Linked DNA regions of Homo sapiens: all the other regions are linked to region 2. Evidence: fine-mapped expression QTL. A gene starts in region 2. Each other region holds a variant in brackets. All regions are shown on one strand. Distances are between the middles of the regions.

Region 1 (5,224 bases), 24 kb after region 2:
GTGGGAACTGCAGCAGGCATCTGACCTGGAACTGGAGGTTTCCAGAGCAGCTGGCATGGTGAAGGAAGGACACACAGAATTGGAATTTCCCCACCCCGTCCTCTGACTGCTCTTGTTCCTCCATCAGGCAAGACTTGCTGGGAAGCAGGAGGAGACAAAGGACCCCTCAATCCCCTGCTGCCTTGAGGATATTCTCTTTCTCTCCCTTCCTCTGTAGTTCACTCTCCAGCTCATTCCCAGGTCCTGGGTGAGCTAGCTGAAGTGGTCATGATAATACTAATAAGCTGATTTCAGAGAAGAGTTTAGTTCATTGCGCCTTTGGGAAAGACCTTGGCTGGCGCTTTGCTAGGATAACAAGCTTCAGTGAAACTAACAGGGACACTAACTCACTCCACTGCTATATTCTTATTTTATATGCTGAAGGTGTCAATAGTCACTACCATAAGTAGAATCTGCTTTTCCTCTGGCAGTGGAAAGGCTAAATTGTAAATGGTGTCTTCAGGCCTTCTCTCCCTTCTAGGACTTCTCTGAGTTCAGGGGAGGGTGGACACAGATGACTTCAAACCTTCCCCTACCCTTGGGGTCCCTGGTCAGTGTTCTCCATAGTGTATGACGGCATTTGAAACATCAGTAATGACTATCCTTTCTCTTACACCCATACCCTCTCTTTACTCATAGTATTATTTTGAGGAATACATGAAATTATAATCATTGTAACTGAGCATCTACTATGTGCCAAATCCTGTGCTAGATATTTTTAAATATTATTTCCGAACCTAATAAAAACATCGTGCCATTTTATAGATGAAGAAACTGAGACTCAAAGAAGCTAACAGATTTGCTCACAGTCAGTGAGTGTTTAGGTTTTAGCTCATGTCTTTTAATCTCTATTTTTTAAATTGTTATTTTATTTTTTTAAAAAGTAAAATAAAATGGAGTCTCACTATGTTGCCCAGGCTGGTCTCGAACTCCCAGGCTCAAACCATCCTCCCACCTTGGCCTCCCAAAATTCTGGGATTACAGGCGTGAGACATCGTGCCCAGCATTTTAAACTCTAAGGCTCACATTTTTCTACTACACTACCATGTTATATAAAACATGGCATCAGACAGCACAAAATTAGGTTGTGCTGCAGTTATAGGCAGCCTGAAAATCTTGGTGGCTTACAACAACAAAGTTTTACTCCATCCTCACGTGCAATGCATGATACACACGCCTCATGTCTCTTCTCGGAGCTCGGTTTCCTAGTATTCCAGGATTCCAGCTGGTGATGGAAGAGCCACCAGACTGTTGCCAGTTCCCATGCTAGAGGGAGAGGGAGCTCTGGAGGGTCTAAAACTATCAGCGAAATGCCCTGGCATTCAGTTGGTACATGTCACTTCTACCCACAACCCATTGGCCAGAATTTTACATTACTCTTCCAAACCACAAGAGGGAGGAAGTGTAATCCCCCTGGACAGCTGAGAATAAAAAGTACATGGCGAGCAACACTAAAACCTGCCACGAGTGTCTGGCACTGGGCTTGGCCCCTACATGATTAATAAACGCTATTTCACGCCCCCTTTCCTTCCCCAGCTATGAACAGATTATGGTGAAATCATTCATTTTGGACCAAGAGACAGGCATAATGAACAGGCCCTCCATTCTGTACTCTTCCTGGTTTGCACCTGCGTCATAGGATGCTGGCTCAGATTTCTCCAGGGCCTGAGTCTCCAGTGCCTTGATGTCCGACCATGTCTCAGGGGTTTCCATCAGTCATTCTCAAGTGCTGTGTTGCAGATGATAAATGACATTCACATGCACAACACATGACACCCTCCCATGGGCATCCAACAGGGTCAGGGCTACAGGCAGTCTCTGTCCGGCAGCTGTAATTCCACCACTTCTTCCTTTCAGGGAGGCATATCGGATTGCAACTAAGCAGCAGGGGCATTACTATAGGACCATATTGAATCTGTTCTAATTGATTAAAAAAAAGTCATCAACGATTTGAGAACCTCAACAGTTCATTATCCATAGCCAACTGCCTAGGACACACCTCCTAAGTGCTCCAGGCATACAGCATGTCAGGATACCACCATTGAAGAAGCACTGGTCAAGAAGAAGCCGGAGCAACCAGTTGTAAAATGAAAAGAAGTGCCAATTTGTCTACAGCGTGCCAAAGAATTGATTGGAAGAACATTTTGTCCATACTCACTGAATTAGCTAGTTGTCTTGGCACTGTGTAGACACAGCCTGAGTATTAAGAATGTGAGCATAGTATCAATCATCAAACCACAGAATGTTAGACTGGAAGGAATCTCCAGAGATATTTTTCATACATTCCCCTCATGTCACAGATGAGGAAACTAAGGAACAGGCAGGCTAAAAGATTTGCTTAAGGACATGTAGCACAATTGTCAACTGTTGTTTTAGAAAAGAGGTTAATGTGGGCACATCTTCACCCACTGCATTTTTAACATTTTCTTTAGCTATTTCAGAATCAAGATGCCCACTGAATGTCATTGCGTACTTTTTCTAAAAGTAGACAAGAATTTGAGAAACACCCCGTGATGCAATGGTTCATTGCTTAAACTTGCTGCTGACTCATTTGCCCTCCACCATTTTTTCCCCCAACTTCTCTCTTGGCATC[T/C]GGCACTTCCACTGGCTCTTTTCTCCAGCTTGTCCCATTCTCCTGGTCTGGGCTGGGCAACAGGATGCAGTGACGTCATGTCCGCGCGTCCTCATTGGGTGGTAGGCGGGGCTCAGAGGTGAGGTCCCTTGGTGAATCGCCCTGGGCGCCTGAGTAGGCCTCCTGGCCTCCAGGCTGAAGCAAGCCACCTGCTGCCCAAAGGGCAGACTGTTCTGGGCCAAAAGGAGTCTGTGGAACAAGGACGCCAAGATGTTCATGCTTTATCGTTTTCCTTTTTGGGATACGGTCTCACTCTCTTGCCCAGGCTGAAGTGCAGTGGTGTGATCATGGCTCACTGCAGCCTCGTTCTCCTGGGCTCAAGAGATCCTCCCACTTCAGCCTCCTGAGTAGCTGGGACTACAGGTGTGCACCACCATGCTTGGCTAATTTTTAATTTTTTGTTGTTGTTGATACAGGGTCTCCCTATGTTGCCCAGGCTGGTCTTAAACTCCTGGCCTCAAGCAGTCCTCCTGCCTCAGCCTCCCAGAGTGCTGGGATTACAGGCAAGAAACTCACACCCAACCAGGTTTCATCTTTTTGATAAAGGACAAATGCCCCCCTCCAAACAAACAACTCCTGTAGGTCACACTTCAAGTGTTTGCTGGGGGAGAAATCCCATCCAAAAATAGTCTTTCTGTTGGAAAGAAAGAAAGGAGTAGTGGCTCACTCCTGTAATCCCAGCACTTTGGGAGGCCAAGGCAGGAGGATTGCTTGAGCCCAGGAGTTTGAACCAGCCTGGGCAACATAGCAAGATCCCTTCTCTACAAAAAAATTTAAAAATTAGCCGGGTGTGGTGGTGTGTGCCTGTGGTCCCTGCTATGGGGAGGCTGAGGCAGGAGGATTGCTTGAGCCTCGGAAGTGGAGGCTGCAGTGAGCTGTGATTGCACCACTGCACTCCAGCCTGGGTGACAGAGTGAGACCCTATCTCAAAAAAACCCTAAAAAACAAACAAAAAACACAAAAATAGTCTTTGGGTCAGGGCCCTCCCTACTCTCGCTTAACTGTGAATTGTGCTTTTTCATTCACTTCAGGTTCCTGCCTCTTGAAATGTCTTTGGTTTGAGCTAGGCAACTTTGTGGTGGTCCCTTGAATCCCTATCCCCCTCCTTATCCCCCCATCCCCTTTTCTCAAGTCAACTTCAGAGGCCTTGGAGGCTCCTGCTTCAGGGCCTGTGAGGGAAGGAATTCCAGACAACTTCTGTATGGTCCTGGGGCTGAGGAATCGGCTCAGTGGCCAAGATATAGGCTCTCCACTGTCACTGCCCAGTCTAGGATTTTGGCAGCTCTCCCAACCCCACAGGCCCAGATGCAGGAGGAATCTTTGGCATGGACAGAGAGCTCTTAGGCCTGGGGCCAAAAGTCAGCCCTTTACCCCAGATGAACACATGGGGCTGCCCCTCCTCTGCACAGAGTACCTCTTTCCCTCACCCCTAGGTTTACACAGCTTAGAGAAGTGTCTGGAGTCTGGTGGGTTTGGGGAGCAGGGAAGATGGAGCCACAGAGTAATGTCCTGGGACAACTCCCCCTTGACCCCCAACAAATAAGAGGGGGAGGAAAGGACCTATAGCTTGAGAGTGGATTCTGGGTCACACTGGTTACCCCTCTTTCCTGGGTTTGATGCATCATTTAAAAGATGCTATGGAAAGTCTTGTCCTTCCAGTTCTTTCTTGTTGGCTTTGGTACAAAGCTACAAACACAGACACACACACACATACACACACATACCCGACTCCATCCTGTAACACACATACCAGTCATTTCTTCTTGGCCACTAGGTCAGATTCTGGAAAACCCTAGTTGTAGAAGAATTTATGGCTAAAGAATTTAAGACTTTAAGGGAAAGTAGAATTGGAGAACAAAGGTCGGGAACGAACTAGAGAAAATCCTTATAATTGGTTTTGCATTCAGAAGAGAGCCCAATCCAAGAGCACACTGAATAAATAACATTTTCAGTTGTTTTGTCTGCTGCTGGCACAAGCGTGAACTGGCTCAGCCAAGCTAGCGAGTAAATTGACAGCATGTCTAATAACTGGAACGCATCTTCCCTGCGGCCCAGCAACACCACTTGTAGGGGTCTACTCTACAGAAGCATGTTCAAGGATGTCCACTGCAGAATCATTTGTGATGGTGAAAAACTGGAAACAAATGTCTATTAGTAGGTGAGTGGATGGATTGTGGTATCTTTGTACAGTTTCATGTTATTCAGCAGTAAAAATGAATGTATCATGCATCAACATGGACCGATCTTGGAAACACAATTTAGCTGAAAAAAAAGTAGGTTCCAGAATGGTGGGTTTAGTGTGACATCACTTACATAAATTAAGAAGCACTCAAAGCAATGCTAGGTGTAATTTACGAGTAATACATATATGGTAAAGTATGAGCACCAGTGTGAGAATACCTACCAACTTCAGGACAGTTGGAGGAAGGAAAAGGGGCACAAAGACTTCAACTGTGTCTGTAAGGTTTTTTCTTTCTTTCTCTCTCTCTCTTCCTTCCTTCCTTCTTTCTTTTTTCTTTCTTTCTTTCTTTTTTTCTTCCTTTCTTCTTCTTT
Region 2 (5,224 bases):
TGTGTGTGTGTGTGTGTGTGTGTGTGTGTGTGTGTCAGGGTCTTGCTCTGTCACTCAGGCTGGAGTGCAGTGGTGTGATCAAGGCTCACTGGACCCCCGACTTCCCGGGCTCAAGCAATTCTCCCACCTCTCAGCCTCCCAAGTAGCTGGGACTACAGGTGTGTACCATCACATCCAGTTACTTTTTTTTTTTTTAATAGAGATGGGGTTTTGCCATGTTGCCCCAGCTGATCTGGAACTCCTGGGCTCCAGTGATCCACCTGCCTTGGCCTCCCAAAGTGCTGGGATTATATGCGTGAGCCATGGTGCCTGACTTCTGATCAATTGTTGAGGCTCCCTCGAGCTCTGTGTGAGGGGCATCTGAAGCTCCAGCAAGACTCAGAAGGAGAGGTTGCCCTGATCAATTAATGACACCTGTATCTCTGTACCTGTTCCAGCATCTATCACAGGCCTGGAACACGGCAGGGCTTCGTTAAATATCTGTTGCATGAATAAATGAAAGATTTCCCATTCTCGATCTGCATTGGCTAACTAGGGTAACCTGCCTCCTCAATGGTTCGCTTGCTCCCATCTTAAAGTCGCATCCTAGAATTCACTTTGGCCCAGCAGGAATTCTTACGGAGTTGTCTTAATAAAGACAGAAAATGCTTCAGCGTCCAGGTCTCCCTCTCTTGGGGACCTTGGTCTGCTTCCTGCACTTCCTATGTGCCCTCTAGCACCCAGGTGGGCCAGGATTCCCTTCAGCTTCCTAAGCTGTGCTCCATCTTGACTGCCGTCCCTGGATACTCCCGCCCGTGGCCCCTTTCATGAGCCTGGCTCCTGCTCCTGCACTCTGGGACCCCTCCCCTTCTCAGAGACCCCTGCCCTGCCCTCCCGTCTTCTCTGCGGTTTCTCTTCTCTTCCTTGGCAACCCCCCAGCCTGGAGCACCCCAGAGCAAATGTAATGTACACCCAGATGGAGACTAAATCTCCTATGATATTAGTGAAATGTTGGTATGGGCATTGATTATAAATTCCATTCCATAGAGCTAACAAACTGAGCAGGAAAGACGGTAACATGCTGTCTGCTAAGCAACGAGGCACATTGGCTGTCACACGTGGAATAAGTGCAAAGGAGTCTGTGGGCCCAGACACCAAGTGTGTTGTTTTTAAGCAGAAACAACCTCTCTGTTTCTCTGAGACAACTGTGTGGACAAAGAAGAATTTCAAGGCTCTCTGCCGACTGGCCAGAATGGAGCTGCGGCTGCCAGACTCCTACCCCGGTGGGGATGGGGTAACTGACTGCCGGAAAATTTGGCTCAATTTTCCTTTAAATCATACCAGTGCTGTTCACAGATGCACAAGACACAAGGACTCTACCTTCCTGGAGCCCCTCTTCTCTCCTTGGCTCCCACGCCCCTGGTGGCATCTAAGCGGGGGTGGGACATTGACCCAGGTTCCGTGGCGGCCACCTCCACGCTCTGCATGGGCCACTCAGACGTGCAAGGCATCTGCCTGGGGCTGACGGGCAGGAATTCATTGCAACTTCCCTGGCTCTGTCCTTGGCACTTGGAGCCATTTCCTGGAATGGACGGGGAGGAAAATATTTCCCCAAATACCAAGAAGAGTTATTTTGGGTATAAAATGTACAAAATATGAGGAGGACGCTCCTTTAGCCAATGTGGAAATGTTCCCCTCAGCCCAATGTCCACAACTGCTTGGGAAGGGAAAGAACCTAAAAGCATCCACTGTTTCTCTCTTGCCTTGTCTCCCTGCCTAAGTGAGAGAAATGATCAGTGTGGCCTTCTTGTTTCTAAGGGCATTAGAACAGGAGCACTCACGTTGCTAGAAGCCTCCATATCTGGTTCTGCAGACAATCCTAATATGAAAGAGATTGGCAAAATTCCCCAGTTCCAGCTGCCCATGGCCCACCTCAGAATCCTACAGAACAAACACAACTCCGGCTGCCAGAGGTCATTCTGCACTGCAAAGGAAGAGAGCCTGTGCTCCTGGAACGGTACCACCAAGTCTCTGCTCTTCACCCACCTCCCCAAAGATCACCCTTCCAACAGAAATTAATCACCTCTTGGAAGCTGCTATTCTGAAATGACAGCCAGGCCACTTGTCTCACTTGGACCTAACTGTATTTAAGGAGTCACTTTCCCAAAGCACCACTATCTTTAAACTATAGAAACAGGAGTGTAAAGGCGATGGCACCCACAGTGAAATCCAAACCAAGCCCAGACTGAAGGAAGGCTATAGGTGAGCCTGGTGGGCCAACAGCGCGTATTTAGCAGTCCTGGCTAGAAGTTCCCTAATAACCAGTTCTGACCCCCAGAGACACCTCATTGTATGCATTGCAAAGAAGGCAATTTGCATGGCTTTGAGGACAGATCTGGTAAGACCCTGCACAATTTCTCTGGAAGATTTTGAGTCTTCCTGACACTTGTTTCCCCCCACCTCTACTCATCCTTGCCTTCCTCCCAGGCATTGGCCTTACACAGCCCCTCTCATTCAGAGGTCAGGAACTTCCCTGGAAAATGAATCCTGAATTCCTACCCGCAGAGCAAGGCAATGTCTGGGACTGAGACTGATCACTTGCATCTGCGTCTCTCCTACCCCCAACTTTATCTCCTTCAGACTGGGGTGGGACATCCTGATCTTTGGGGATGTGCCCAAGGCAATTTCCAATGCATCTCAGCTCTGCGAATGCCACCAGGTTGGTGGGTCTGACAGTCTCCCAGGGACCTGGCTGGTTCTGCAAGGTCCTGCCTTCTGGGCACCGGCACAGCCCAGCAGCAAATCCAACGCTCCCCAGCTCCCGGTAACCTTCTATCTGGCTAGAACTCGGTACAAAGCTATCATAGTCCAGAACTAAGCCATCCGCCCTGCATCCCTCCTGACTCAGTTTCCCCGGGATCCAGAGTTGTGTGGGGCCCTGTGGCCTGCCAAGAAAGACCAGCAGAGAAGGAGGAAGGAGCGCGCCGGGGCCTTACCTTGCAACCGCTGGCGCTGCGATTCCTACGGGGCTCCATGCCTGCCCGCCCCTCTTATAGCGGCCCGATCACAACTTGCGCAACTGCCCCGCAGGCCCCGGCGCATTTCTAGCGCCAGCTCCCGCCCCGCCCCTCAGGGTAGCGACGTGCCGGGCGGCTGCTAGCCCTGGGCCCGCAGTGTGCACCTCGCGGGGCCTCGAGGGAGGGCCTCGGCGCGCCAGGAGCCACGCGCGCACCCTTGGGTACCTCCCAAAAATTTGGGGGTGGCTGGTAGGAGCGAGAAATCCTTGATGTCCCTCCAGAGGCTCCGGCGCGACTATGGCGCAAGGACCAGCCCCTTGGGAAGGTGCTTCGAGCCGCGCGGGGCGCGGTCGGGGCGGGGGTGGCTGTGAGGGGCTCCGCGGAGCGGGCTGGGGCATACGGCTGCGCCCTCGTTGGTCCTGGCGCGGCTTCGGGGTGGGAGCGAATCGGGACTCGGCCCCGACGGCCCTGGACGCCAGGGAAGCCCAGGGTTAGAGGGAGCGGCCCGCAGTGCGCCAGGCTCCCCGACCCAGATTGCGGGGTTGGGGGTTCTGAAGTCCCACCCCTTCTCTGGCACGCGGAGAATCGAGTTCCAAGCCTCAGGGCAAGTTGTCTCTGGCTGGCACCCCAGGGAGTGCACGCTCTCTGGAGGGCTCCAGGCGGGCACTGTGGCCTTTGGGGACACTCTGGACATACTGTGGGTCTCCATCCTCAACTCCGTATTTCCTACGTACAAAGTGGGGGTTGGGGGGTGGTCCCAGATGTAGCCACGTTTTTGTCATCATAGCCTGTGAGTGGTGTGGTAGGCATGTTTCACCTGTATCGTTTGTAGTTCCCCGCTTTACATGATGGGTTGGTTTGTTTTGTTTTGTTTTGTTTTGTTTTACCCTTGGGCTTCAGGGATGAGGAATCTAAGGTCCAGCGAGGTTAAATGACTTTCCTTAGAATCCACAGCTGGTAAGGAATAGCAATGGGCTAGGAACCCAGGCCTATTCTGGTCCCCACTGCGCAGAGCAGCTCCAAAAACAAACCACTCCATTGAGAACCAACCCAGCCAGGCGTGGTAGCTCAAGCCTGTAATCCCAGCACTTTGGGAGGCCAAGGTGGGTGGATCACCTGAGGTCAGGATTTCGAGACCAGCCTGGCCAACATGGTGAAACCTCATCTCTACTAAAAATACAAAATTAGCCAGGTGTGGTGGTGAGTGTCTGTAATCCCAGCTACTTGAGAGGCTGAGGCAGGAGAATGGCTTGAACCTGGGAAGTGGAGGTTGCAGTGAGCCAAGATCAGACCATTGCACTACAGCCTGGGCAACAAGAGTGAAACTCTGTCTCAATAAAAAAAACAAAACAAAACAAAACCCATAACATAAAGCGGGGAACTGCAAATGACGTTGGTGAACCGAGCCTGCCACTGCCGGGTTTGGTAATGCCCAAAAGCTAAGAATGGTTTCTACATTTGTAAAAGTTTGAAAAAAAAAAATCAAAAGAAGAGGCCAGATGCAGTGGCTCATGCTTGTAATCTCAGTATCCCACGTTGGGCACCAGATATTGGGGGAACCTGCCCCCAATATTTCAACGTAGGTTCTTTCTATTTTCCATAAGTGTCAGCTGGCTGAGAAATAAAGAGAGAGAGTACAAAGAGAGGAATTTTACAGCTGGGCCGCCGGGGGTGACATCACATATCGGTAGTACTGTGATGCCCACCTGAGCCTCAAACCAGCAAGTTTTTTATTAAGGGTTTCAAAAGGTGAGGGGGTGTAAAACAGGGAGTAGATCACATGCTTCAAAGGGCAAAAAGGAGAACTACTGATAAGGGTCTGTGTTCAGCGGTGCACGTATTGTCTTGATAAACATCTTAAACAACAGAAAACAGTGTTCGAGAGCAGAAAACTGGTCTGACCACAAATTTACCAGGGCGGAGTTTTTCACCACCCTAGTAAGCCTGAGGGTACTGCAGGAGACCAGGGCGTATCTCAGTCCTTATCTCCATTGCGTAGGATAGACATTCCCAGAGCGGCCATTTATAGACCTCCCCCCAGGAATGCATTCCTTTCCCAGGGTGTTAATATTAATATTCCATGCTAGCAAAAGAAATTAGCAATATCTCTCCTACTTGCAGGTCTATTTATAGGCTCTCTGCAAGAAGAAAAATATGGCTCCCTTTGCCCGACCCCGCAGGCAGTCAGACCTTATAGTTGTCTTCCCTTGTTCCCTAAAAATTGCTGT
Region 3 (5,224 bases), 22 kb before region 2:
TGGGCTTGGGAATCTGGTGGAAAGCAGACCTCTTCTTTACCTCCCCAGCCTTTCCTCAACCCGGTCAGGCTGGCTGCATAGGGTGGACCCGAGATCTTCAGGCCTCGGCAGCCTGGCCCAGCAGGAAGACATTGAAGCTCACCAGGAGGTGGCAGGGAGTGTCCCTGGGGGAAGCTGCTGAGGCCAGTGCTCAGGAAGGAACCAGGGCTCTGTCTGAGGACCAATTCCATCCGGGCCTGGTAAGGGACATGTGGCTGTCCAGTGTGAATGTTCTGTGCTTGTATATTTCAGCCTAAATTCCCAGTTCTTTGGCAACCTGAATACTGAACGTTTTCAGAGTAGTTTTTCTCCCAAGGCGTTTGTTCTGGATCACTAGTGTCTGGTATATATCATTTTTGATTCAACATATTTAAAACTCATTTCCCCCCCAGACAAGACAAATAGAATTTGTAGCTTTCCATATGGGCTTTTCAAAAAGATTGGTACTGGGAGCCATTGGCTTCCCGGAGTGGTGTCATTTGATTAGCCCTGGTGTTCTTCCACTTACGGGGAGTGGGTAATTGCAGTTGTTCCAAGTGGGAGATGGTGTGATTGGGTTTTTCTCCTATGGGGAAAAACAAATCCTATCAGATAGATGAGTTTCTGGCATTTCCTATTCTTCTTTGTGACAGGATCTTCCAGAATAGAAGTCTCCCAGCAGTGCACATCCAGGAAGCATCCAGGCCAGGTTGGGCAGGGTTTAATAAGCGCTGGGCCTTTCACCTGGATGCTGGGAAGGTGCTTGGATCTATGAAAACCCCAGGGTGGGGTCAGGGGCCAATGCAGAGGTTTCCCAGAGAGCTCTGGGGCTGGGTCACTTCCCCACTGGCCAGTCTGTCATGCTGAATGCCCAGGACTTCCACAATGAGTCCCAGAGGTGAGATGACAGGGTCAGGGTCAGGGCCCACTTCTGCAGGAGTTGCCACTTACCTTGTTTGTTAGGACACAGGCAGAGTGTTGGAACAGAGAGGATTGCCTGGAGGTTCCTAGGACCACAGCAAGAGGTGTTGTGGGGGGCTTCCCGGCTTCCCGGAGGCCCTTCTTCCCATGACAGGAGGGACAGTGGAGATAGCACCTACTCTGGTGACCTTGCTCTCTGCTTTTGTCTTGTGACCTGCTTGTGGGTGAGCCCTACCCCTTGGTTTCCACGTGACCCATAAAGTCTACTCATTTTCTGTCCAGGGTTCAGGCACAGAGAGAAAAGGCAAGGATGTGGAGGGAGAGGAGAGTCCCTGGAAGGAATGTCCCCAGCATATCAGCCTGGAGTTTCCATTCAGGAAATTTCCCCAGCTCCCCAGACCCTCCCAGACTTGCCTCCTCCCTCCTGACAAAGCCCCAGCCCTACCCATAGCCCCAGCCACCACCCCCTTTGAGGAGAGAAGGTGCTGGGTTGGGTGAGGAGCTCTGCGGGAGGACTGAACCAAGCTGTGGGCTCCTGGGCACCTGCCCATGAGCCAGGCCTGCATCTCCCAGACCTGCTTGTGGGTGAGCCTGCATGCTGACATGCTTGGCTGGGCTCTAGCCTTGGCTATTGGTGGCCCAGGGTGTGTGTGTGTGTGCGTGCATGTGTGTGTGTGTCCCTTTGGAGCTATGTAGTTTGTGTACCAAAATAAGAAGGGAGCTGGGGAGTTGAGCCCTGATGAACTTTGTAACAATAAAGCCTTATCTTGTTAAATAAATCAAGCCTTGAATAAATGCCTGCTTATTCCTTGCCAATATTTTCCTGCTACCTAAGGCAACATAGCTCTGTGACCTGTAACCAGTCACTTAACCTCTCTGGGTCTATTTCCATATCTATAGAAAGTGGATATAATACTATTTGTTCTCCTCAATGCTGCTTATTGTAGAGATCAAATGTAATAACGTGTGTGAAAGTGCTTTATAGATGGCAAGGTGCTGTTCTGCTGTAAGGAATCCTTCTGATCATTACGCTTTTTGTAAAGCAATCAGAACAGCCATCCCTACAACATAAGGTGTCAACAACACGACCTCCATTAAAAGGGAAGAAAAAAAGAACAAATTTCCCAGTGGAAAAGAATGACCCCCCGACAAAGCAGAAAGACCAGTAAAATAACCCCAATGAGAGCAATAACAATTTGGATGACTTAATATCAAGCCCCAATCCACTATAACCAGTAACAAAAATGTTCTTCATACTTATCAGAAGCAGTTGTCAGAGCCAAGGACAATCACTCCACCCTTTTCTAAGTCCGGGGTCAAACATTATTTTTTATTTGATGCCGTGTGGTTGAAGTTAAGAGCCAGTCAGAGCTGGTTTTGGTTCTCAATACAAAAGTAAAGGGTCAAAGGGAGTGAGTCTCTTCCTTCTCTCAGAAAGAAATCCAGACTGAGACAAGGTTCCAGAAAGCTGTCAGGAATCAGACAGGCCAGGAAAGAAAGGCTCAGAGCATTCCTGGAGGAAATCTGTTGTTTCTTCCT[T/C]CCCAAGACCCATTTCTCCTGCTTTTTGGTAACACACCCTCTTTTCCTTTGGGAAACTACCCTATCCCCATTCTCATTCCAAGTGCAATTGACCCCTTCCTTGGTTCGACTCAAATCTAACCAATCAGAGTACTGCATTTTCCTGGTCCCAGTGATTGGCTCAGCAATAGACATGTGATTCAAGCCAGACCAATGGGAGTCAGCTCTGGGGCTTTTGCCGGAACATTTAGGAAGGAGAGCTCTTTTTCCTGGGGAGTTGCCAACCTGGAAGGTATAGGACTGGAGTTTTTGATGATCACTTTTGCCACCGTCTAAGAATAAAGCCAATGCCAAAGGAAACAAAGCTGAGATGGAGAATGATTCCCGTTGACATGGTTTGAATACTGGTTCAACTGCATAGGAAAAGCAAGGCAAGTGAGGGTAAGCAAGTTTAGGATTGGCTAGTTTGAGTAATTTCAGTGGGCTCTGGAGCATGGGGGCTGGCTCTAGTTGTCTGGTACCTGGCCCTGGGAAGATTAGGGTAGGGGATAGTGGCCCTGAGTATGACAGCCCAATAGAGGAGGTGGTTGGGGTGTGGGCTCTAGATTGGTTGGTTTGCATTTGAAAGGTATGCACCCCTTGAGCTGTTTGCTATCTCTGGGAATTAGCTAACCCTGGGAGGATCGGTCCCTGCAGTGTCAGTGAGGTTCCAAGATGTCACAGCATCAGAAAATATAGGAAAAAAAAAAAGACCAACTAATACAGCTGGGATGGCTGGGGCTGGGGCCTCTCTCCACAGGGTCGCTTATCCTCTTGGAGGCTAGTCTGGGCTCCTTCGCATAGTGGCTGAAGATTTCCCTGCAGCGAGAGAGGACAAGCCCCCATGGGCAAGCACTTTTCCAACCTTTGCTTGTGTCTTGTTTGCTGTTGTCCCACTGTGGCAAGCAGGTCACGTGGCCAAGCCCAGTGTCAGTGTTGTGGGGAGCCTACATCGAGGGCGGACACCAGAAGGCAGGGGTCACACCTGGGCGCCATTGCCACAGCAATCTGCCCACAGCCTGCCCCAGCTGGCCCTCCTATCGGAGAGTAGTTCTGATGGTACGACTAAGCCAAAGCTTGCCTTCTGCCACATTCTACCTGTTGATCCCCAATCTCCCTCCAGTCTTGTCCACATGACAGGACTTTGGCAACCATATCTGGCTTGGAATCCTCTAAGTGGACAGACTGCTGAGCATTCCACTTCCCCTCATGCCACTTCTTTGTACCCAAATGCAAAGGGGACATGGGGCATCAGCTCTTGAGGTTAGAGACCCATTCAGCCAACAGGTTGTACCTACTCTGTGTAAGGATCTAGCCTAGATGCTGGGGATCTAGCGGGAAACAAAACAGACCAAAAGACAATCCCTGCCTGCTGGGAGCCTACATTCTTTTTTTTTTTGAGATGGAGTTTCGCTCTTGTTGCCCAGGCTGGAGTGCAATGGCGCAATCTCGGCTCACGGCAACCTCTGCCTCCCAGGTTCAAGCGATTCTCCTGCCTCATCCTCCCGAGCAGCTGGGATTACAGGCGCCCACCATCATGCCCGGCTAATTTTTTTGTATTTTTAGTAGATACATGTTGGCCATGCTGGTTCTAAACTCCTGACCTCAGGTGATCCACGTGCCTCAGCCTCCCAAAGTGTTGGGATTATAGGAGTGAGCCACTGCGCCTGGCAGAGCCTACATTCTTATGGGGTAGATATTAATAAACAAATGTACAAGTAAAATATATGAAAATGAAGACGAGTGGATGGGATGAGGAACAGGAAAAAAATGACTATGATTTTTTTTTGTTGTTGTTGTTGAGACGGAGTCTCCCTGTGTCACCCAGGCTGGAGTGCAGTGGCGAGATCTTGGCTCACTATAGCCTCTGCCTCCCAGGTTCAAGTGATTCTCCCACCTCAGCCTCCCAAGTAGCTTGGATTACAGGTATGTGCCACCACTCTTGGCTAATTTTTGTATTTTTAGTAGAGACGGGGTTTTGCCATTTGGCCAGGCTGGTCTCGAACTCCTGACCTCAGGTCATCCACCCACCTTGCCCTCCCAAAGTGCTGGGATTACATTTGTGAGCCACCGCACCCAGCCACAATGACCATGATTTAAAGAGCTCTTCATCTCAGAGAAGGAGCAGGACAGGAGACTAATGGAGGGGGCTTCCGGCAGTGCTGGTGGGGAAGGTGGGCAGACCTGTGGGTGAGCCCTGGAGCCAGTTCTGTGTGTGTGTGCATATGTGTGTGTGTGTGTGTGTGTGTGTGTGTGTGTACAGTCAACCCAGGCTGTAAGCTCCTCAACTTTAGGACACTTCCCAGCACTTTGGGAGGGTGAAATGGGAGGATCACTTAAGGCCAAGGGTTTGAGACCAGCCTGGGCAACATAGCAAGACCCCATCTCTAAAAAAAAAAAAAACTTAGCCAGGCATGGTGGCATGTTCCTGTAGTTCCATCCATTCAGGAGTCTGAGGTGGGAGGATCGCTTGAGCCCAGGAGTTTGAGGCTGCAGTGAGCTATAATGGCACCACTGCACTCCAGTCTGGGTGACAGAGTGAGACTCCATCACTAAACCAAACAAATAAGCACAATAAGAACAAACAAAAAACAACATTAGGATAGAGACATGGCCTGCAAGTGCATTTCCTAATGGATGTCCCTCTGGGGAGAGGTGGGGATGGGTGGGCAAGCAGAAAACGGCTGGAAATCTCTGTGTGTATGTGTTTGGGGCACAGATGGGGCAA

What was found.
Region 1: its variant is fine-mapped to the expression of LEP in whole blood (TOPMed, PIP above 0.99).
Region 3: its variant is fine-mapped to the expression of LEP in whole blood (TOPMed, PIP above 0.99).

Annotation. Positions count from the first base shown.
Region 1 is chr7:128,214,682-128,219,905 of GRCh38, reverse strand. All of the region lies in intron 1 of LOC124901744 (a long non-coding RNA gene), which reads right to left. Among named protein-coding and RNA genes, the nearest start is that of MIR129-1, 9.4 kb to the right of the region's middle. The variant T/C (reference allele first, on the strand shown) is at 2,633.
Region 2 is chr7:128,239,058-128,244,281 of GRCh38, reverse strand. LEP (leptin) reads right to left here and starts at 3,004. Exons shown (of 3, transcript NM_000230.3): 1 at 2,976-3,004. RefSeq lists cis regulatory regions at 3,050-3,058, 4,550-4,955, promoters at 2,976-3,222, 2,976-5,224 and enhancers at 4,878-4,913, 4,891-4,950, 4,550-4,955.
Region 3 is chr7:128,261,036-128,266,259 of GRCh38, reverse strand. No RefSeq gene overlaps it. Among named protein-coding and RNA genes, the nearest start is that of LEP, 22 kb to the right of the region's middle. RefSeq lists an enhancer at 3,463-3,963. The variant T/C (reference allele first, on the strand shown) is at 2,479.